Homo sapiens: one gene and its partners. The protein of the gene in region 1 interacts with the protein of each later gene in a pairwise test. Each region holds a gene or a part of one and is shown in the gene's direction. Other genes may lie near its edges.

What was found.
Region 2: the proteins of RUSC1 (region 1) and PRDM14 interact in binary tests that used the Homo sapiens proteins (3 or more experiments, as listed by UniProt).
Region 3: the proteins of RUSC1 (region 1) and SUOX interact in binary tests that used the Homo sapiens proteins (3 or more experiments, as listed by UniProt).

What each region holds. Positions count from the first base shown.
Region 1 is NC_000001.11:155,316,586-155,323,893, forward strand, and holds the start of RUSC1 (AP-4 complex accessory subunit RUSC1), read left to right. Parts: upstream 1-4,308; 5' UTR 4,309-4,406; exon of another isoform or gene 4,407-5,102; 5' UTR 5,103-5,188; coding exon 5,189-6,545; intron 6,546-6,816; coding exon of another isoform or gene 6,817-7,227; exon of another isoform or gene 7,228-7,260; intron 7,261-7,308. Other genes in the region: FDPS (farnesyl pyrophosphate synthase), read left to right, coding at 1,356-1,436, 1,584-1,706, 2,080-2,168, 2,271-2,343, 3,026-3,103, 3,209-3,343, 3,824-4,024. UniProt on the Homo sapiens protein: Associates with the adapter-like complex 4 (AP-4) and may therefore play a role in vesicular trafficking of proteins at the trans-Golgi network. Signaling adapter which plays a role in neuronal differentiation.
Region 2 is NC_000008.11:70,068,251-70,076,246, reverse strand, and holds the start of PRDM14 (PR domain zinc finger protein 14), read left to right. Parts: upstream 1-4,994; 5' UTR 4,995-5,097; intron 5,098-6,362; 5' UTR 6,363-6,386; coding exon 6,387-7,086; intron 7,087-7,714; coding exon 7,715-7,768; intron 7,769-7,859; coding exon 7,860-7,996. UniProt on the Homo sapiens protein: Transcription factor that has both positive and negative roles on transcription. Required for the maintenance of embryonic stem cell identity and the reacquisition of pluripotency in somatic cells.
Region 3 is NC_000012.12:55,992,358-56,000,277, forward strand, and holds the start of SUOX (sulfite oxidase, mitochondrial), read left to right. Parts: upstream 1-4,918; 5' UTR 4,919-4,982; intron 4,983-5,257; 5' UTR 5,258-5,366; intron 5,367-6,975; exon of another isoform or gene 6,976-7,101; intron 7,102-7,920. UniProt on the Homo sapiens protein: Catalyzes the oxidation of sulfite to sulfate, the terminal reaction in the oxidative degradation of sulfur-containing amino acids.

The sequences.
Region 1 (7,308 bases):
TGGCCAACATGGCAAAACCCAGTCTCTACTGAATGAAAATACAAAAATTAGCTGGCCTAGCAGTTGGTGGTGGCAGGTGCCTGTAGTCCCAGCTACTTGGGAGGCTGAGGCAGGAGAATCGCTTGAATTTGGGAGGCGGAGGTTACAGTGAACCCACATGGCGCCACTGCACTCCAGCTTGGGTGATAGAGTGAGACTCTATCTCAAAAAAAAAAAAAAAGAAAAGCTATTTAAGGAACCAAAACATAGTTTGACTGACTGCAAGAAGTATCACAGGGAATGTTAGAGTGTTTTATTAATTTCTTTGTCAGACAAGTGTTTAGGAAACTCTCACTCCAGGCCTAATGCTGTGCTAGGCTCTGCAAATGCTAAGAGGGGGAAGTTACTGTCCCTGCTTCCAAGGAGATCATGGTCTAGTGGGAAACCCGACACGTTCAGGTACCTTCAGATGGGCACTCAGAAGAGTAAGCCCTTAGTTAATGTTTAAAGATGTTTAAAGATGTCTGAGACTCATAGGTCAAAGTCAGATTTCAGTTCCACCTTATTAGACCTGCACTGCTAAGGAGCTGCTTTAGGTAAGGCTGTGTTCCTAGTCACCAGGGTGTTCAAACACAGTGCTGGGGGCAATGTGGGAATAGCCTTCTTTTATTTAGGAAGTAATGTGAAGTCAGTTTCATGAATAGATCTTACTTTAAGCATTCATTGAGGTTTTTGGCAAGAATAGAGTACGGTATATGAAGGTGTTTCCTAATCTCCCTGACACCAGGAATAATCTAGGGCTCATTAGAGATGTCAAAGATCTGTTCTAGTTTCTTAACCTAAAACAAGAGTGTTTTAGTTCCATTTTATAGGCGGGGAGTCTGAGCCAAACATGTTATGTCACTTTCCAAGTCTCCATAGCACAGAAGTCTTCTGTCTCCCCATCCTGACTTTCCCAGCTCATAGGGACTGTCAAAGGCAGCAGCTCTGGCCGGCTGTGATGCCTCATGCCTGTAATCCCAGTAATTTGGGAGGCTGAGGCAGGAGGATCATTTGAACCCAGGGGTTCAAAACCAGCCTGAGCAACATAGTGGGACCCTGTCTCTACAAAAAATAAATTAAAAAAAAAAAATAGCCAGGCATGGGGTATGTGCCTATGGTCTCAGGAACTCAGGAAGCTGAAGTGGGAGGATCACTTGAGCCTGGGAGTTAGAGGCTACAGTGAGCTGTGACTGCACCACTGCACTGGATAATAGTGAGACTCTGTCCCCTACCAAAAAAAAGCAAAACTATATACAGATATAAAGTAGCAGCTCTGTTGCTGATAGAAGGAACAGTAATGAGGAGCCCTGCAGGTCTTATTCCACTCTTTCTAGCTGCAAGCTTTCTTCCTGGTGGCAGATGACATCATGGATTCATCCCTTACCCGCCGGGGACAGATCTGCTGGTATCAGAAGGTAATGTGGGCAGGAAAATAGCAGTGGGTATGGGGACAGGCCACAGGGAGGTGGTTATATATGGCCTGGTTGAGGTGTTGGGGTGATGGCTCTTAGTATGAACCGAGACTAGAGATTGATTGCTTGTTTTTCTGTCTGTCATGACAGCCGGGCGTGGGTTTGGATGCCATCAATGATGCTAACCTCCTGGAAGCATGTATCTACCGCCTGCTGAAGCTCTATTGCCGGGAGCAGCCCTATTACCTGAACCTGATCGAGCTCTTCCTGCAGGTGTATTGCAGACAGGGCCCGATGCCCAGAGGGTGCCCATGGTAGCCTTGGCCTCTATAGGACATGCTCATCTAGCTGGTTTCAGGGTACAGGATTGCAGCGTGCCTGGAAGGGAAAGAAAGCGAGGAAGGGTGTTGGGAAGTGGGGTTGTGGTAGTGGCAAGAAAGGGCTTCTCTGTCCTGTGTAATTGGAAGAAAGGGTGATAAAGGACTGTGTGTATGAATATGGGCCTTAAGTTTTGGGGCTTTCTCCCCTTCTGTTGCCTTTCTGATTCTGCCCAGTTGTCAGCTGGTATGGGATGTTGGGCTTGGGATACCAGGGTTTCGCATATCTGGAGAAAGCCTGGCTCATGGACCGTCTTTGTCTTGCTTAGAGTTCCTATCAGACTGAGATTGGGCAGACCCTGGACCTCCTCACAGCCCCCCAGGGCAATGTGGATCTTGTCAGATTCACTGAAAAGAGGTGAGGGGAGGTGAGGGACAGCGCGAACCATGTCTGGACAGCGAGGGAGGGCTCAGGATGTGCATTGCCCTCCTGAGGAGTTTCTCTTCTCCCCTTACTCAGGTACAAATCTATTGTCAAGTACAAGACAGCTTTCTACTCCTTCTACCTTCCTATAGCTGCAGCCATGTACATGGTGAGTGAGCCTCCTCACCCCTCTCTGCTCTGCTGATGGGGGCTTTTGGACAGCAAGGCATAGAGCAGAAAACGTGAACACTGCTACCCCTGGTGAAAAACTGTGTGACCTTGAGCAAGTCGGTCTCGCTCAGTCTCTTTCCTCAGCTGGGGATAAAATTCCTACTTCACAGGACTGTAAAGATTAAGCAAGGCAAGGGATATGAAAGTGCTTAGCACATAATAGGGGAACAATATATCCTGTATCTGAGTATGGATAGGAGTGTGGAGATCATCCAGGTTGAGAGGGAGAAGAGTGGATTAAAGACAGTCAGTGGGATTAAGTGTCTACCCTGACCTTGCTTCTCTACATTTCCTTTTCATCTTGAAAGAAGTTGGAGGTGGCAAAAATATTAGGAAGGTGGATCAGAATGACTTGGGGACTGACATTTGTGAGGGAAGAGACAGGCTGTGCACCTCTAGAATGGATTCATCTCTTTTATGACTCCCAGGAAGGCCTAGCCAAAAATAAGTGGGATTGAGGTTGGACCATCAGTCAGGACTGTCTAGGTCAGGGAAGCCAAGATGTCTGAAGAGAGAGGAAAGATTTGGGGCTGCAGTAGGGCAAGACCCCATGGGAGGAAGCAGCCAGGAAGATGCCGGCACCCCTGGGGTTTGGCTTATTAACCCCCCTTTCCCTGCAGGCAGGAATTGATGGCGAGAAGGAGCACGCCAATGCCAAGAAGATCCTGCTGGAGATGGGGGAGTTCTTTCAGATTCAGGTAAGAAGGCAGGAGGCAGTAGCAGAGAACAGGCACCAGCTTCACTCCTCCTCTGCCCAGGAACCTCATCCTTCCTCTTTTGCTGCCCTCCCCCTCCCTGCCCAGGATGATTACCTTGACCTCTTTGGGGACCCCAGTGTGACCGGCAAAATTGGCACTGACATCCAGGACAACAAATGCAGCTGGCTGGTGGTTCAGTGTCTGCAACGGGCCACTCCAGAACAGTACCAGATCCTGAAGGTGCCTGAGAGAGGGTGGTGGGTCCCTGAGTTGGTGGAAAGGGATAGAGCAGTGGTTCTCAACTAGAGGCAGTTTTCCTCCCGAGGGGACATTTGGCAATGTCAGCAGACATTTTTTGCCATTGTCATTACAACTCTGTGTGTGTGCATGTGGTACAGACATCTAGTTGGCAGGAGCCAAAGATGTTGCCAAACATGTAGTACACAGAACAGCTCCCCCAGACAGGATTATCTGGTCCCAAATTTCAATAGTGCCAAGGTGGAGAAACCCTGGAGTAGAGGATGCCTGGTATGAGGCAATATTTGGGATAGGGAAGGGAAGCTTGGGATTTTAGCTACGTAGAGACACTTGAAAATTGGAGGGAGGAAAGGAGTGGGTGGCTTTGGAGATGTTCTGGAATATGTGAATGAGGGGAGTGGAGGGGTCCTGGAGGCTCTGGGGAAGGCCAAGCCCGTTTTCCTGTCTTTCAACCTCTTCCAGGAAAATTACGGGCAGAAGGAGGCTGAGAAAGTGGCCCGGGTGAAGGCGCTATATGAGGAGCTGGATCTGCCAGCAGTGTTCTTGCAATATGAGGAAGACAGTTACAGCCACATTATGGCTCTCATTGAACAGTACGCAGCACCCCTGCCCCCAGCCGTCTTTCTGGGGCTTGCGCGCAAAATCTACAAGCGGAGAAAGTGACCTAGAGATTGCAAGGGCGGGGAGAGGAGGCTCTCAATAAATAATCGTGTAACCTTCTTGTGGTTCTGTTCTTGCTCGGCCCAGCCAGAGTCTGGCTCTTTCCAGAATGTGCAGGGTGGGGTGCTGGGAGGACTCGCTGCACGGAACCAGGACCCAGGGGCCAAAAGCTTAGGATATATCAAACCCTCTAGGTGGGTGACAAAAGACGCTAAACGCTGGGGGCGGGTCTGAGCTACGCCACGCCCATGCGCGAAGGGGTGCAGCTGCGCAGCGCAGGGTAGGTTGTGCTAGTGCCCCTCCCCTCCCGCTCTGTGCCCCGCCGGGCGGGGACCGTGGGAGCCGCGGACAAGCCCAAGGCCGGAGCGGTTCCAGGAGGACCCTGGTGAGGAGGGCTCGGCCCATGGGTGTAGACCGATGGACCTGGGCACGAGGGGCGGGGCAGGACAAGGGAGCAGGAGAAATGAATAGAGAAAGGGTGCGGTGGTGGCTGAACGATGGAGACGAATGCGGAGAGAATGGACATACCGCTGTTCCGAGGGGCGAGGGCGCAGGCTGGAGCCCGGCCGAGGCAGCCAGCAGATGCGGAGTTGACAAGCTGACGGCTGCTCCATCCTTTTCCTCTCCAGCCCCCACCCCTTTCCTGCATTCACCAGACAAACTCTGCGTATTGCCCCACCCCCATCCTCCACCTCCTTTCAGGGCATCTGGGTGGGTCTCCCTGGGTCCCTTCCTCTGGGAGTAAGGGGTAGGCTGGAGGGCAGGGCCAGATTGCGGCAGCAGGGACCTGGAGGTCCATTCTGGGCCCGGACCTCTTCCAGGCCCCCGCCCCCCTTCGGAGATCCAGAGCGCAGCCGCGTTCTCTGACCCTCCCGGCTCCATTCCCGGGGGGTTACATTCGACTCCATCTGCAAACACTGCAGTGGAAACTAATGGTCAGTCGATTGCGATTTGCATCTCATTGAAATATCTTCCAAAGCAGCCAGAGCCTTCAGGCCTGCTGCTGCCGTCAAGTCACCTCGGTGTCCTTCCCCGCAGCTCTTGTCCTCACTGGCCGGGCTTCACCACCTCTGTCTTCTAGGTCTGCACCTGTGGTTGCCAGGTAGGTGGATGTGAGAGACCCTACCCTTCTGGTTCTCTAGAAGCCATCCCATCGCCGCTAGCATCATGCTGTCCCCTCAGAGAGCTTTACTCTGCAACCTCAACCACATCCACCTCCAGCACGTCTCCCTGGGCCTGCACTTGTCCCGCCGTCCTGAGCTACAGGAGGGGCCTTTGAGCACACCCCCTCCTCCAGGAGACACTGGGGGCAAGGAGAGCAGGGGCCCCTGCAGTGGCACCCTGGTGGACGCCAATTCCAACAGCCCAGCTGTGCCCTGCCGGTGCTGCCAGGAGCACGGTCCGGGCCTAGAAAACCGGCAGGACCCGTCACAGGAGGAAGAGGGGGCTGCCTCTCCCTCAGACCCAGGCTGCTCCTCCTCACTCAGCTCCTGCTCAGATCTTAGCCCCGATGAGTCCCCTGTCTCAGTCTACTTGCGGGACCTCCCTGGTGATGAGGATGCCCACCCTCAGCCCAGTATCATCCCCCTGGAGCAGGGCTCCCCACTGGCTTCAGCAGGCCCTGGCACCTGCTCACCGGACAGCTTCTGCTGCTCTCCTGATTCCTGCTCCGGAGCTTCTTCTTCACCCGATCCTGGCCTGGACTCGAACTGCAACGCCCTGACCACCTGCCAGGACGTCCCTTCCCCAGGCTTGGAGGAAGAGGACGAGAGGGCGGAGCAGGATCTCCCTACCTCTGAGCTCTTAGAGGCGGATGATGGGAAAATCGACGCTGGGAAAACGGAGCCCAGTTGGAAGATTAACCCAATTTGGAAAATTGACACAGAGAAAACTAAAGCTGAATGGAAAACCACTGAAAACAATAACACTGGTTGGAAAAACAACGGGAATGTTAACTCTAGCTGGAAAAGTGAACCTGAAAAATTCGACTCTGGTTGGAAAACCAACACAAGAATAACTGATTCTGGCTCGAAAACAGATGCAGGGAAAATTGATGGAGGATGGAGAAGTGACGTCAGCGAGGAGCCGGTGCCCCACCGGACAATCACGTCCTTCCACGAGCTGGCCCAGAAGCGCAAGCGGGGCCCAGGGCTGCCCCTTGTCCCGCAGGCGAAGAAAGATCGCAGTGACTGGCTCATAGTCTTCTCGCCCGACACCGAGCTCCCCCCCTCGGGGTCGCCGGGCGGCTCCTCGGCACCTCCTCGGGAAGTCACCACCTTCAAGGAACTCCGGTCCCGAAGCCGGGCCCCAGCCCCGCCAGTCCCGCCTCGAGACCCCCCAGTTGGCTGGGCTTTGGTCCCGCCCCGGCCCCCACCCCCGCCTGTCCCTCCCCGAAGGAAGAAGAACCGACCTGGACTGCAGCCCATAGCGGAGGGGCAGTCCGAGGAGGGCCGGGCTGTCAGCCCAGCGGCTGGCGAGGAGGCCCCAGCCGCGAAGGAGCCGGGCGCGCAGGCCGGCCTGGAGGGTAAGAGGTCGCAAGAAGCGGGAGGAGGGCTGGGCTTCGGCCGCTCACGCCTCCTAGGCTTCCAACCCGGCCCCCTGTCTTCCCTCCATTCTGTGTCACCCATCCTCCCCGCCCCTTCTACCAGGGAGCGCTCCGGGAAAGGGAAACTGGGTGGGTCATTGGGTTATGGGACTAACTGTTTGCTCCCTCTTCTTCCCGCCCCTTCTTGCCTGGCTGCCCATCCCGCTGCCCTCCTTCCCTCTGCGCCTGGCCCCGCCAATCCCGCCTGCAGCCGGTCCCCTCCTGCTCCCTCGGCCCCTGGTTTTCCGGTTCTCGGCCGACGGGCGCCCCCTGTTGGAGGGTGGGGGCGCAGGCGCAGCTGGGTCTCTGCTCCTGGCTCCTCTGGCCGGGTGGCCCGGCGCCGGGCTGCGGCTGCTGGGGGCGCCGAGCCCCCCAGAGGAGCAGCTGCTGCCCGTCCGCCTGTCCCCGGTGGGAGCCTATTCGCCTCCGACTCGGGGAGCCTTGCCCTGCCTGGCCAGCCCCGAGCTGGCACTGCTGCTGTCCCCGCTCTTTCCCAGAAGTAGCACCTTCCCCGCCGCGGCTCCCCCACCCCGCCAGGTACCCGCCCCCCCGCTGCCACCGCAACCTCGTCCGCCGAAGGCCCCTCGCTGGACCAGGAGCCCATCGCCTCCGCCCAGGCTACGTAAGACGGACCCGGGCTAGCCCCGCGGGCCACGCCTCAGGCGGGCCGCCCCGCCCACTCTCGCCCGGCCCCGTTTTCGCT
Region 2 (7,996 bases), on another chromosome or scaffold:
GATAGGGATTGAGGCTACACTTGTTTATACAACTGTCAAAATGTTTTTCCTTTCTTCTTTTTTTTTTTTTTTTTGAGGCAAGTTCTCGCTCTGTAGCTCAGGCTGGAGTGCAGTGGCACGATCACAGCTCACTGCAACCTCCACCTTTCCAGCTCAAGTGAACCTCCCACCTCAGCCTCCCACCTCAGCCTCCCACTGGCATGTCACTACACATGGCTAATTTTTCTATTTTTTGTAGAGATGGTGTTTTGCCATGTTGCCCAGGCTGGTCTTGAACTCCTGACCTCAAGTGATCCACCCACCTCGGCCTCCCAAAGTGTTGGGATTACAGGTGTGAGCCACTGCACCCAGTCAATACTTTTTTTTTTTTTTTTTTTTGAGGCAGGGCCTCACTCTGTCACCCAGGCTGGAGTGCAGTGGTGCCACCTTGGCTCACTGTTACCTCCACCTCCTGGGCTGAAGCCATCCTCCCACCTCAGCCTCCTGAGTAGCTGGGATTACAGGCATGCACCACCATGCCCAGCTAATTTTTGTATTTTTTTGCAGAGACAGAGTTTCATCATGTTGCCCAGGCTGGTCTCCAACTCCTGGACTCAAGGGACCTCCCTACGTCGGCATCTCAAAGTGCTGGGATTACAGGTATAAGCCACTGCACCCAGCCATCAACTGTCAAAATTTATGGTACAGCCAAGATACATGCATTTCATCATATGTAAATTTTACCTTTCAAAAAAAGAACCATAAACAAAATGCTGAATTTGATTTAATGATATGCATGCTGAAGTTCTTTAGTGATGAAGTATGCTGATGTCTGCAGTGACTTCTTACTACTTCTTGGTGAATACTTGGAAGTAAAGCTGTAAGGATACTTACATCTTAGCAAGTGTTCTCTGCAAGACCTGGTGTCTGCTGACATTCCAACCTCAAGCTGTCTCCTGGCACCAGTTCTGTGAATCAGCCAAGCTTCCTCCAGGCTTAAGGCCTTAGCACCAAGGGTTCTGTGGCCCTGGAGTACCACTTGTCCTCATCCCCTTCACCAAGTTCATTTCTACACATCTTTCCAATTTGATAGGTTGGGAGAACCCTCCTGTACTCCCAGCCTAGACTGAGGCTCGTTACTTGTACTACACTTTCTTCCCTCCTTATTGCAGTTCATAGTGACTCATTCATCAAGTATTCACACACATACAGACCTTCTTCATTAGGCTTTTAAGGGGATCAAGACTGCTTTGTTCACAATTGTATTCCCTATGCTTGGCTTGCTGACTGGCTCATCAATAGGCAGGCATTCAAAAGAAACTTTGTTATGTAAATGACTAAAAGGCAATTAGAATACGATTTTACTTCTTATGTGAAAGACAGGCAGCTTTAAAGAATTGGCAATACTCCCAAGGTGTGGTAGCTCACACGTGTAATCCCAGTACTTTGGGAGGCTGAGGTGGGAGGATGGCTTTACACAAGGAATTTGAGACTAGCCTAGGCAATATAGCAAGACCCCCGCCTCTACCAAAAATTAAAAGGTTAGGCGGGTGTGGTGGCACATACCTGTAGTCCTAGCTCCTGGGGAGGCTGACACAGGACAATTGCTTGAACCCAGGAGTTGGAGGCAGTAGTGAGCCGCAATCATGCTGCTGCATTCCAGACTAAGTGACAGAGTGAGGGCCTGTCTCTATGAAAGAAAAAAAAATTTAAGGCCGGGCGTGGTGGCACATGTCTGTAATCCCAGCACTTTGGGAGGCTGAGGCAGGTGGATCACTTGAACTTAGGAGTTTGACATCAGCCTGGGCAACATGGTGAAATCCCTGTCTCTACAAAAAACACAAAATTAGACAGGCTGAGATGAGAGGATCGCTTGAGCTGGGGCAGTTGAGGTGCACTGTAGCCTGGGCGACAGAGTGAGACCCTGTCTCAAAAAAAAAAAAAAGGAATGGCAATATTCGGTATTAGATGAAGCATGGAGAAATAGGCACTTGCCCTCACTGCTGGAGGAAGTATAAATTGGTATGGTTTGAAGTACTTGTTTATTTTGTATTTTTTGAGGCAGAATCTCACTCTGTCACCCAGGCTGGAGTGCAGTGGCGTGATCTTGACTCACTGCAACCTCTGCCTCCTGGATTCAAGCTAGTCTCCTGCCTCAGCCCTCCGAGTAACTGGGATTACAGGCTTGTGCCACCATGCTTGGCTAATGTTCGTATTTTTAGTAGAGATGGGGTTTCACCATGTTGGCCAGGCTGGTCTTGAACTCCTGACCTCTAGTGATCCACCCACTTAAACCTCCCAAAGTGCTGGGGTTACAGGTGTGAGCCACTGCGCCCAGTCTTGAAGTACTTGTTTAAATGATCAGTGTTTATACCTGTTGATCCAGCAACTTCACACCTGGATATTTCTTCTACAAGGCACAGTAGCACAACTATGTATCTGTATCAGTGTTTCTGTACACTGCCAGAAGTATTGAAAAACTGGCAACAACTTAAATACCTTTCAAGAGGAGGCTGATAAACTATGAGCACACCTATAAAATGGAAATTCTGTACCACGCAACCATTATAAAGAATAAATTTGCCGGTGTGGTGGCTCAGGTCTGCCATCCCAGCAATTTGGGAGGCCAAGGTGGGTGGATCCCTTGAGTTCAGTAGTTTGAGATCAGCCTGGGCAACATGGTGAAACCTGTCTCCACAAAAATATACAAAAATTAGCCGGGCTTGGTGGCGCATGACTGTAGTCCCAGCTAGTTGAGGGGAAGGGGCCGGGTGGTGAGACGGGAGGACAGCTTGAGCCCAGGAGGCAGAGGCTGCAATGAGCCAAGATCATGCCACTGTACTCCAGCCTGGGTGACAAAGTGAGACCCTGTCTCAAAATAATAATGATAATACTAAAATAAGGTTAATTCTACTATACTGATAGGGAATGATTACTAGTAGGAGCTAGGCCGTTGCAGAAACGAGTGAAGTATAATCCCATTTTTATTTTTACAAAATCCTACGTAATCCTACACAATCTAAAAGTATAGTGGGTTTTGGTTTGTTTGTTTGTTTGTTTGTTTTTAAGGAATGGGGGTAGGGAGCAAACCAAACTGTTGATCAGGATTATCTCCTAGAGTAGAAATGGGAAGCATGGATTTCAACTTTTCTTTTATCGATTTCTCCCAACTTCTTAAAACAAGCAAGTGTTATTTTAAAATAGTGTCAAATATAGTAAACTCTGGATTCTTTGCAAAACAAACCTCTAAGATAAGGTTTGATATTGCTTCCGCTAAAATAAAGCTACGACACTTCCGTGCACGAAAAAACGGCCTCTTGAGGACCTGCAACCCACAGATCACCCAGGTGCCCCCATATCATTCTTGAAATCCTACCTGTAAAGCCCAGGAGGAAGTATAGCGAATGCCAGTGGGTCTAGGAGCTCTGGGGTGAGCACGCCTCCGGAAGGAAAACGGCAACAGAATTTATTCTGCTTTTCCAAGTAAATGATCCTTCCACAGAGGCACTTGGGACAAGAGGCGACGGGTACTTTTCACGTTTTCGATCTATTGGCTAAGATCCTATCACCTCAAAACAAGGAGACGAGGAAACCCTGGGATCTTGATCCCATTTCGATTGAGAAAACAACACGCTCCTTGCGAAGCGAAACGGGGCTGGCCGCGGGCAGCGCGGAACCACGCGAAGGCGTCGGGGGCGGGCGGGCGCGGGGACCAGGGCCACCCGGTGCAGCAAAGGGGGCAAGCAGGCGGCAGGGCGCGCGGGGAGACAAGGCTGAGTGCACGCCGCCCGCGCCCTCGAAGGCTCTAGTCCCACTCCTTCCTCCCTTCTTGCAGCCCCGCCGCGCCCTGGCGAAGGCTACAGGGTCAGGTTCCCCGCACCGAGGAGCCCAGAAGCCCGGCTGCGGGCGCTCTGAAGATCCGGGACCCCGGCCTCCGTCCCCCGCCAGCTTTAGGGACTCTGGCGGCGTCTCTTAGCCGGGTAGATGTTCCTCCTTTCCCTCTCTCTTCCAAGCCGCTGCCAGGCCGGGGGTGAGGCTGCACCTCAGTCTTCAGCCCCGAAGGCCGCGCCCGGGGCGGGTCGCTCCCCATTCAGCTAAGAGGAAGCAGCGGCCGGGGGGCAGGCGAGGAACCTGTCCCGGCTCACCCGGCAAGACTGCGTTTCCCCCACCCTCGGCGCTTCTTTCTGTGAATGTGAATGGAACTAAGCGTTCCTTTCTCTCCCTCAATGGCCGGCGAGGAGAATTCAAATGCGGTCTTTGGGCGCTCGGTATGGGTCTGGACCTTGGTTTTCAGAGCCTGCGCGTCCAAGGTCGCTAGCCTTTCCCGAAGGAAGTGACAGCTGCGGCGGCGCGGGAGGCCCATCCTCGGTCGTTTAAAGCCACTTAAGGAATAAAAGCCCCCGAGAGAGCAAAACGACCACCCGAAACCTCGGAAGCGTCGGGGGTGCCGGGCCCAACGCTCCCACGTGTCACTGCCGGGGACTCGCGAGGCGAAGCTTCCCAGCGCTCAAGGCGCTCCCGCCTCGTCCCCAGGTATCAGGAACAGACACCCACCAGGTCCACCAGCGGGTCAGACGCCGCCTTCGGGCAGGCTGGGATCTTCCGAACTGGGAGCGGAGAGTAAGGGGCTCGACCCCGGGACGCGAGTCCGGCCTTCTGGACTCCGGTTCAGGGTGTGTGTGCGCGCGGAGGGGCTTATCTGGGGGCCCTGGGTAGCACACGTGTTCGGTTTTTTTCTCCCCGACTCCGCACGCCTGGAGCGGCAATACTGCCTGCCCTAGAAGGCCAGCGGCGAGTGCTCGCCACTAGGGTCCCAGGGAGGGTTTGGAAAACTGATGAGTTAAGTGAGCGACCCCAGGGGACAGAGGGCGAGTCGAGAGTCGGCCAATGGCTGCGGTGGGCGGGGAGAAGACGACGCGGGGATCTGCGTGGGCCGGGTCAATTCCCTACCCTCGACCTGTCGATGCCCCGCGGCCCCGCCCGCCCTCTTAAGCCTGGCTCAGCCCTCAGGGCCCGCCCGAAGTCTACCGAGCCCGAGTGGCCTACCGAGCCCGAGTGGCCCCGCAGCGTCCAGGAGGCGCCCGCTCCGCGGTGGCGCTCTTGGAGGTGGTGTCGGAGGTAGGCACGGGACAGGACGCGCCTGGGGCCCGGGGCGGTGGTCTTCCAGGGCCGTTGGGGAGGGCGGCAGCACTCGCTGGCGCAGTTCGTTTTGGATGGTCGTTCTGCCCTCTCGGGGGCTTTGAATCCCAAGTTGCAGATCCCTGAGGTCGGAGGAGGCTAGGAGAAGGGCGCCTTTGGAGGATCGGGAGGAGACGGGCCGCTGCCTGTGTCGTGGCTGACCTCTTCTCCTGACCCCGTGTTCTTTAATTTCTGAGTCATGACCCTGCTTGGTTTTCTTATTGGGCTCATTGATCTCAAGACCCGCCGGCCCTGAAGGGGCTTCATTCTTCAGCCTCGGTGAACTTGCTGCCTGTCTATTAAAACGCCATCCTTTCCCGGCGGTGCGGGGGCGGGAGGACTGGCAGTCGCCGAGGCTCTTCGCTCCCACCTGGCCAGGGCTCGTCCACGCGGCTCCCGAGGGGCTACCCCAGGCCCCAATAGTCCTGGTAGAATGATTGGAGTTTCCGAGGAACCCGGGGAATGTGGCGGACGCTGCCCGCGAGGGAAAAGAGGTTCAGGCGGCGCATCCTAGGGCAGCCAAAAGTGGCGCGCCCCTCCCCTGCGGGCAGTCAGGACCGCCAGGACCCGCGGGGTCACACCGCTGGGCCAGAGCAGGTCGCGGGGTCCCTGGACCTGCCCGGGGGCTCTGGGAGCGCGTCTCCATCTGCGCGGTGCGACCCAGGGTCCTCGGCTCTTCCCTCCCAGCCGAGGGCCCAGGAGCGCCTGGAGCTGTCGCTTGCTCCATTGCCCTCCGACCGCCTGCGCTCGGCTCCCGGCCCAGCCCCGAGGTTGGCAGGGCCCCGCGGCTCCCACAGACCCTACCAACGAGTTTTGTAGGACTGAGAAGAAGGAAGGAAAGGGAACTTCAATGGGTTTTGCAGGAACCGGGTTGGGGGCCGAAAGCGGAGAGCGGGTGTGGGAAGGCGGCCGGGCTTAGGGAAGGGGTGCTTGGAGAGGGAAGGGGAAGGCAACACTAACCCGGAATTTAGAGTAGGGCAGGATCCCGGCAGATTTCCGTTTGGGGCTTTTTTGTGTTTGCTTCTATTGCTGTTTTTTCGTTTTGTCTTAATTGTGGGAGCGGGCTGGCGGGATCGGACTGGGGGCGTTTATCCTGTTCCCTTGGATCTGGGGCTGGCTGGGGTGGAGGAGGCTGGTGGGGAGGCGCGGGTCGGACCCCGGGAAGCTCCCGCGCGGTGTCCTCAGCGGCGCCCGCTTTTCTGCAGAGCCGCCGAGCGTGCGGTCCCGGGATGGCTCTACCCCGGCCAAGTGAGGCCGTGCCTCAGGACAAGGTGTGCTACCCGCCGGAGAGCAGCCCGCAGAACCTGGCCGCGTACTACACGCCTTTCCCGTCCTATGGACACTACAGAAACAGCCTGGCCACCGTGGAGGAAGACTTCCAACCTTTCCGGCAGCTGGAGGCCGCAGCGTCTGCTGCCCCCGCCATGCCCCCCTTCCCCTTCCGGATGGCGCCTCCCTTGCTGAGCCCGGGTCTGGGCCTACAGAGGGAGCCTCTCTACGATCTGCCCTGGTACAGCAAGCTGCCACCGTGGTACCCAATTCCCCACGTCCCCAGGGAAGTGCCGCCCTTCCTGAGCAGCAGCCACGAGTACGCGGGTGCCAGCAGTGAAGATCTGGGCCACCAAATCATTGGTGGCGACAACGAGAGTGGCCCGTGTTGTGGACCTGACACTTTAATTCCACCGCCCCCTGCGGATGCTTCTCTGTTACCTGAGGGGCTGAGGACCTCCCAGTTATTACCTTGCTCACCCAGCAAGCAGTCAGAGGATGGTCCCAAACCCTCCAACCAAGAAGGGAAGTCCCCTGCTCGGTTCCAGTTCACGGAGGAGGACCTGCACTTCGTTCTGTACGGGGTCACTCCCAGCCTGGAGCACCCAGCCAGCCTGCACCATGCGATTTCAGGCCTCCTGGTCCCCCCAGACAGCTCTGGTAAAGGGAGTTCACACCATTTGGGAGTCGAATTGGACGGGAATGCAGGCGGGAACGGGAGTGTCCGGGAAGAGGCGCTTCCAGGTGGAGCTGAGGCTGCAGAGTGCGGGAAGGGGGAAGTACCTCCATGAGAGCCAGGGCTGTTCTAGGCTCACTTCTGAGGCCCTGCTTGCTTAACTGCATGACTAAGGTTGGTTTTAGTGAGAGCTGAGGACCAAGAGAGAAATGGTTCCTGCAGCGAACTCCCAGGTAGGTTCAGATTCTATGCTAACATGCAATGACAGCCTTCAGCAGTTCACACCTAACAGTCCCAGCTCAGCTAGCTACGCTGACCTTAGTCAGGCATTACCTCTGATCCTCAAATTCCTTGAATTTGCCTAATGGGGTTAATTACATAAACTTCCATGAGGCTGTTCTGAGTCTCAAATGAGAAATTGTATATGGAATTGTTTACAGTGAAATCGTGTATGAACAGACCATGTAAAATGAGCAGGGAAAAATAGAAACAACAAATAAATATCAAACTGGGATGATGGTTACCTTTAGGGAATTAAGGAGGGAAACACCTCATAAAAGCACTTTATAATGCATTTTTAATGAAAAATTGTTTTAACCTGCCTTTTGCTAGGATCTGATTCTCTTCCTCAAACTCTGGATAAAGACTCCCTTCAACTTCCAGAAGGTAGGCAGGACTCCTTGCATGGATTTCTTTCCCTGAACTAATGCAGAGTCAACTCTCCTCATTCTCTTTTCCTGCCTCGGCTTTCCCCTAGGTCTATGCCTCATGCAGACGGTGTTTGGTGAAGTCCCACATTTTGGTGTGTTCTGCAGTAGTTTTATCGCCAAAGGAGTCAGGTTTGGGCCCTTTCAAGGTAAAGTGGTCAATGCCAGTGAAGTGAAGACCTACGGA
Region 3 (7,920 bases), on another chromosome or scaffold:
CACTTTTTAACGCTTCAGCAACAAACACCAGGCAGCTGTTGCCACTGGCCTCCTACCCCCTACTCTGGGGCTTGGGGGTCAACTCCCCCCAGGACTTACCTTCCAAAACAAACTTTCTTCACTTTGTATTATAGGTACAAGACAGCGACTTACGTATCTTTTCTCCTCCTCCCTAGTGTTCCTCCCCATTTTTTCAGAAAACACTTCTGACTCCTGTCCCTTCCCCTTCTGCTTTTGGTCAGTCCCTGTTCTTGAGCCTCTTTTCTCCTCTCCCCAGGATGCAGAAAGTGGTGAACCCAGGAACTGAGGAAGGAGGTTTCCAGTTCATTTACATTAAGGGCCCTGGGGGAGAATAAAGCTCAGAGCAGGAGGGAGTAAGGAAACATTTCCTTTTTGTTTTTATTTGGTTGGAGTTTCTCATATTTGAAAACATTGCGGTATCCATGATTTGGCCTTGTGGAGGGTGTTCCTAGGTAGAGGTGAGAATGGGGAGGCAAGATCTCAGGCACCAGGCAGGAGGTGCCTTGTAAGCTAACTGGGCGGAGGTGGAGGTGCAGTGTCAACTGTGGCTCTGTAACTCTTCAAAGGCCCAGTTTCCCCTCACGCAGCCTCTTAGGTAGCGTTTCCCCTAATCGTGGGGGTTGGACCCCAGAGTCTTCCAAAGAATTTTCACTGGTTGCCTGCATCTTTGGCTCTGCTGTGATCTGATTGGAGGAGGGACAGTTTCTGGTACCCATCCTCTGATTTATACATATGCATTTTTTCCCCTCTGGCCTTTAGATGGCCTCAGCCCCAGCCACCATATACCCCTGCAGTTTGCACTTTAATTGATGGTAGTTCAGTTGGGGTACTTGTTTTATGGAAGTTTTGATTGATTTACTTGCCCTCCCACCTTCTTTTTAATTCAATGAAATCTGAGGTTAATGCGAGGTTCGAGGAGAGGTTATAGATAAAACTACCAGTGGCAGCTACTCAAGTCCTATCTCCACTGTTAGCTTCCTCCAACTCTAATTATTAACCTATATTCTTGCCAAGCTAACTATTGACTATAGGTTTGCCTTTCCTGGAGAATTAATTGAGCAATTGAGGAGTGTCTCAGGATAGCACAGGCCAAGGTAGGGGAGTAAAAAGGAGGTCAGGCAAAAGGGAGGAGTTTTCTGTCCTTTCCCAGGTTTCACACTCAATTTGATATCCATTACCATGTCTTTTCTACTTCCTTGTAAATAGGTATGATCTTTATTCCCACTGTACAGTCTGTTCTATCCTCTGCCTCCCATCAGGCCCTGTTTCTTTGTTCCTTTGTTAATATCTTGAATTTAGTCCCTCCATCCTTAATCCCCCCATCCCTCCCCATCATGCAACCAGTGGTTTAATCCATGTACCAATAGGGGCTAGTACCACAGAGGCCTCCTGTGGTGCCCTCGTATCATACCACCTGTTCCTGTGGAGAGGGAATGACCGGCACTGAAGGTACCTTACAACTGGCTCATATTATCAGAGGACCTTGGTCCTTTCTAAATCTCTAGTCTCTCTTCATATCCTTCATCAGGTGTTTTAAGATGTCTCTGAGAAGCCATCAAGGCAAAAGAGAACTTTAAGTTCCTTGTTCCAGCCCGGAGTTTTGGGAAAGAAAGAAAGGAAAGGTCACAGTGACCTAGGATTGGAACCTTCCTGCCCTTTTGGCTTGCAGACTGCCTTCTATCCCAGAACAGCTGAGAAATCTATGAAGCTGAGATTCTGAAGGACCCAGCTTAGGTTCTTCCACTTAGGCCTCAATTCCCTTCCTTTTCCAGGGGCAGCCTTAGTTCCCATGGCCCTGAAACACACACATTTCCCCCTTCCTTTCCCAGAAGCCACTGGCCCCCCATAGCACCCAGTGCATCCTTTTTACAAGTGGAAGAACTAGGATGGCTTTCCAAAGTCTTCTAGAAATGAAGTTCTTTCTCTGTGCAGCTTTCCCCCTTGGAGCAGGAGTGAAGATGTTTCATTATCTTGGGCCTGGGAAACCACTTCCCCAGGCTTCTCCCTCCCCCCACCCCCATAGGAACAGGATTTGGCCTTAGCTTCTGGGCCTATCGGCTGCCTTCCCTCTACTTCCTACCACCTCTTCTGCCTTCCTTTGAGCTCTGTTGGGCTTGGGGATCTTAGTTTTCTTTTGTTTATTTCCCAGCTCATTTTTTTCTTCTGGTCAGTTTTTTTAAGGGGGGGTGTTGTGGTTTTTTGTTTTTGTTTTGCTTCTGAGAAAGCATTTGCCTTTCTTCCTCTCCCAACATAACAATCGTGGTAACAGAATGCGACTGCTGATTTACCGATGTATTTAATGTAAGTAAAAAAAGGAAAAAAAGAAAAGGGCATTGGAGTGTTGCTTTTTTTTATTTTATTGTTATTATTATTATTATTTTTGCTATTTGTCAGGTACTAGGAATTTGGAAGAAAGGATACCCAGTAATGTTCTACTGAATCAGAAACACACCTTTCCCTGCATCTTGATACATCTTTATTCCCTTTAATCTTTTCTTAAACATCTAGTTTAGAAAATAGCCCTTCTATTGCTATTTAATCACCCCTCTTCTAAGGCCACTAGATTGTTCATCAAATCAAACCCTATTATATCTTTTTAGGCCCTCTTAACAGAATGTATATGTGTAGGGTATGGTCTGTGGATCTTTGGGCCCACTGATCAGATTAGAGAGAGGGGTGCTATTTGAAGTAGTATACAAAAATGTATGTGCATATTTCTTTTTTTTTTTTTAATTGAGACGGAGTCTCTGTCGCTAGCCTGGAGTACAGTGGCACGATCTTGGCTCACAGCAATCTCCGCCTCCTGAGTTCAAGTGATTCTCCTGCCTCAGCCTCCTGAGTAGCTAGGATTACAGGCACGCACCAACACACCCAGCTAATTTTTGTATTTTTAGTAGAGACGGGGTTTCACCATGTTGGTCAGGCTGGTCTTGAACTCCTGACCTCGTGATCCACCCACCTTGGCCTCCCAAAGTGCTGGGATTACGGGCGTGAGCCACTGCGCCCGGCCGTATGTGCATATTTCTAGGATCCATTTCTATATGTTTCTCAAAGGGGTCCATGACCCAAAGGTTGAAAAACATCACTGAGTTAGTTTTCTTGTAGCTTCCACCTCAACGGGAAAATTTCCTCTGGATCTGCTCTTGACTCCTAGTGTACTTCAAACCCTTCAGTCCACCACAGTCTAAAGGTCGAGGGAAGGGAAATGAAATAGGATTATGTGTGGTTGCAGTAGGCTTTAAATTCCAAAGAATCTGAAGGTGGATAGGAAAGAGGACTGGTGCCAGACAAATCTGACATTCTAGGCCTGTCTCTGTCAACTTAACCAGCTGTGGCCTTGATCAAGTTAGTTAGTGCCTTCCGCCTCGTTTCTTCATCTGTAAAGTAAAAGCTGAAGATTAAGGTCAATTATGTAAAGTATGTGTGTCACACAAAAGTAGATGACACTATTAGGAAGGAGGCTTTTAGATAGTCCCTAACTGACTTCTCTGTATCTTCCTTTGGCTGAGACTTTTTTTTTTTTAGGTTGAAGCTCGCTTTCTCTCTCTCTCCCTCTTTCTCCCTCTCTCTCTCTCTCTCACTCTCTCTCTCTCCATATATATATACATATATATATATATATATATTTTTTTTTTAACAACTGGTAGGATAGGTTGGGCATTAGCCTTCTTCAGTGATTTGATTGTATACAGATTGAAATCCTTTCCATTTCCAAACACTTAAGAGCCAAAGCCAACTTGCCAACTTTTCACTGTCGGTTCCCTTACCTTATATCTCTTGGTAATACCCCCCACCCCCGTTCCCTGATTCCTGGTAAAAGCTCTAGTTGGAGAGCCGAAAGGAAAGGAAATGATCTTTCAAAATTAAAGGTGAACACCTTCACTTAAACTGATTAAAATTGCAGCTCCACCGTCCGGCCTCTAGAGGGCAGTGTATGGATACATTTGTCCAGATTGGGGGACTAGGTTTGATAAATTTTGTCCTGCATCAAATGACAAAAGGGTAATAGGAAATGTATTATATTTATGCCCCTTACTTTGAGATAAGAGACTACAACCTTCATACTTCGGGGTGTTAAGCTGCCATTGCTCTTGTTAAGGGGCAGTTTGTTTTTTAAGAGATGGGGTCTTGCTCTGTTGTCCAGGCTGGAGTGCAGTGCCGCGATCTTGGCTCAGTGCAACCTCGAACTCCTGGGCTTAAGCGATCCTCCCGCCTCAGCCTCCCGAGTACTGGGACTACAGGCGTGTGCCACCAAGGGGCGATTATTATTTTTTTTTTCTACGCAAAATAAAAGACGGCTATTCAGTGTTGTTGTTTCATTTTTGTTTGGGGAGAAATTCGACTAGCCCAAGGAATCTCAAATTCTTGGAACCACTATTTTAGGCATTTCTGTTATCATTCCTGGAATACGAGAACTAAGCGATTGACTTTGCTTTCCCTAAAAGATAAACAGGGTAGTTGTAGTTGCAACAGAGTAGATAGAGGTAGGTCTACCCTGGGTTTAAAGTGGAGATCACAGCCGGGGAAAACCGGACTGGATCCCGAGGCCTCCTCCAGGGAGGGGCGGCAGGGGTGTCTCAAAATCTCCCACCTGTCAGCCCAACTTTTGGATTCCTTGTCACCTTCCACACTGCCCGAGCTCCGGACATACAGCCCTGGTGCACAAGGGTCCCATTCTTTGCACACCAGGGGTATAATGGACTCCGGACTGTTGGCGAGAGTGACAGCAAAAAGAGCCAGCCTCTTCTCCCAGGCTTCTTAGCAACCTGCCTGTCTCGGCTCCAGGAGGCGGGTTCCAGCCAATGGTTGAGCCACCCGCTTCCAGCCAATGGCTGAGGGATAAGCTGAGGGGAGTGAGAGGTCACTTACTGCAGCCGGACATAACGGCGCTGGCCCCGCCCCTTCTCGAGAACTCGCAGAGCTGGGCTGGTAAAATTGCAGTGCTGAAGACACTGGACCCGGTAAGGAGACTGGGGGTGGTAAAGAAGCTGGGGAGGAAGGGCTGCTGAGCTGGGCAGCGGAGGGGGCCTTGGTGTCCAGCTGTGCTCCGAACCTCAAGGGCAACAAAACTATCAGTACCTGCCTCCACTCCTTCTGTCTGGGTGCTCTTGAGATCGCGGGGTGTTGCCGCAAGACCCTTTTGTGCCTGGATGCCGGACGTATGTTCCTACCTAACGTGCCCATGGGGAGTGAGGGGTCATCACCTGCACCAACGGGTGGCATTTCTGTATTACAGCAAAAGGCTGTCCCTCCCAAACCTGGGATTCTGGGCTCACTGAGTTCACCTGCGAGTCAGCCCTACCTGCACTGCTCTGGTCTAGTACAAACAGGCTGCTGGCATTGAGGTAGGTGGCAGAGAGAGTAATGGTCCCATGGCCCAGGGGCAAGGTGAAGACTGCTCCTATTCCCATCTCTAGGTTTCCTTTCCTCCCTACCCACGACCCACCCACCCCAGCACATTGGTCTCCAGCATCTCATCAGCAGTTTAGACATTTGTCACCCCTCCTCACTTTGGCCCTGCTGGGTCAGTGCTCTCTGTTCAGCAATTTGAGGAAGAAACTTGCAGGGCAGAGAGCAGAAAAATTACCTTCCTTCTCCAGCCTGCCCCTGACACTCTGGCCATTAACTCCTCAATTTGCTGAGCTCACTACAGTGGCACAGAGAAGATTGAGGTGGTCCGGGACCCTAGGTTGGGGTCCAGTTCCCAGCTGGGTTCAATTTTTTTTAGGGTGAATGGAGGGAGAGTTGGGGACTGAAAAGCCTTCAAAGACAATGTTATTACAGCAGTCTCCCCTTATCCAAAGTTTCCTTTTCCTGAGTTTCAGTTAGCTATGGTCAACCGCTTGGAAAATAGTTGAACACAGTACAATAAGATATTTTGAGGCTGGGAGTGGTGGCTCATGCCTGTAATAATCCCAGGACTTTGTGAGACCAAGTTTGAAGGATCACTTGAACCCAGGAGTTTGAGACCAGCCTGGGCAACATAGTAAGACCTCATCTCTACAAAAAAAAAAAAAAAAAGACCATGCATGGTGGCACACGCCTGTGGTCCCCGCTACTCAGGAGGTTGAGGCAGGAGGATGGCTTGAGCCCAGAAGTTTGATGCTATAGTGAGCTGAGATCACGCCACTGCACTCCAGCCTGGGCAGAGCAAGACCCTGTCAGGGGCAGGGGGAGGGGAGGGGAAGCCGGACAGTGGCTCATGCCTGTAATCCCAGCACTTTGGGGGCTAAGGCAGCAAGAGGCCAGGAGTTCAAGACCAGCCCTGACAACATAGACTCCCATGTCTACAGAAAAATTAGCCAGGCTTGGTGACACACACTTGTAGTCCCAGCTGCTGGGGAGGCTAAGGCAGGAGGATGGCTTGAGCCCAAGAGGTTGAAGCTTCAGTGAGCCATGATCGACACTTGCTCCATCGCCCAGGCTTTTTTTTTTTTTGAGACAAGGTCTTGCCCTGTTGCCCAGGCTGGAGTACGGTGGCGCCATCATAATTCATTGCAGTCTCGACCTCCTGGACTCAAGCCATCCTCTCATCTCAGCACTCCTCTCCCCACCACCCCGGTAGCTGAGACTACAGACAGGCACCACCATGCCCAGTTAATTTGTTTTTTTTTTTCTAGAGACACAGTCTCACTATGTTGCCCAAGCTGGTCTTGAACTCCTGGAGTCAAGTGATCCTCCTTCCTTGGCCTCCCAAAATTTTGGGATTATAGGCATGAGCCACCATGACTGGCCAAAAAAAAGTATATTTTGAGAGAGAGACCACATTCATATAACTTTTTTTTGTTTTTGTTTTGAGACAGGGTCTCGCTCTCTGTTGCCCAAGCTGAAGTGCAGTGGCACAGTCAGCTCACTCTGTAACCTCAAACTCCTGGGCTTAGATCTTCTCAGCCTCCAGAGTAGATGGGACCACAGGTGCGCTCCACCATGCCCAACTAACTTTTTATTTTGTAGGGACGGAGTCTCCAACTCCTGGCCTCTAGCAGTCCTCCTGTGTAGGTCTCCCAAAGTGCTAGTGTGTCCGGAATTGGTGGGTTCTTGGTCTCACTGACTTCAAGAATGAAGCCGCGGACCCTCGCAGTGAGTGTTACAGTTCTTAAAGGCAGCGTGTCCGGAGTTTGTTCCTTCTGATGTTCAGATGTGTTTGGAGTTTCTTCCTTCTGGTGGGTTCGTGCTCTTGCTGGCTCAGGAGTGAAGCTGCAGACCTTCACAGTGAATGTTACAGCTCATAAAGGCAGTGTGGACCCGAAGAGTGAGCAGCAGCAAGATTCATTGTAAAGAGGGAAAGAACAAAGCTTCCACCGTGTGGAAAGGGACCCAAGCGGGTTGCCACTGCTGGCTTGGGCAGCCTGCTTTTGTTCTCTTATCTGGTGCCACCCACATCCTGCTGATTGGTAGAGCCGAGTGGTCTGTTTTGACAGGGTGCTGATTGGTGCGTTTACAATCCCTGAGCTAGACACAAAGGTTCTCCACATCCCCACCAGATTAGCTAGATACAGAGTGTTGATTGGTGTATTCACAATCCCTGAGCTAGACATAAAGGTTCTCCAAGGCCCCACCAGAGTAGCTAGATACAGAGTGTTGATTGGTGCATTCACAAACCCTGAGCTAGACACAGGGTGCTGATAGGTGTATTTACAATCCCTGAGCTAGACATGAAGGTTCTCCACCTCCCCACCAGACTCAGGAGCCCAGCTGGCTTCACCCAGTGGATCCCGCACTGGTGCTGCAGGTGGAGCTGCCTGCCAGTCTCGGTGCCATGCGCCCGCACTCCTCAGCCCTTGGGTGGTTGATGGGACTGGGTGCCGTGGAGCAGGGGTCGGTGCTCCTCGGGGAGGCTTAGGCCCCACAGGAGCCCACGGCGAAGGGGGGCTCAGGCATGGCGGGCTGCAGGTCCCG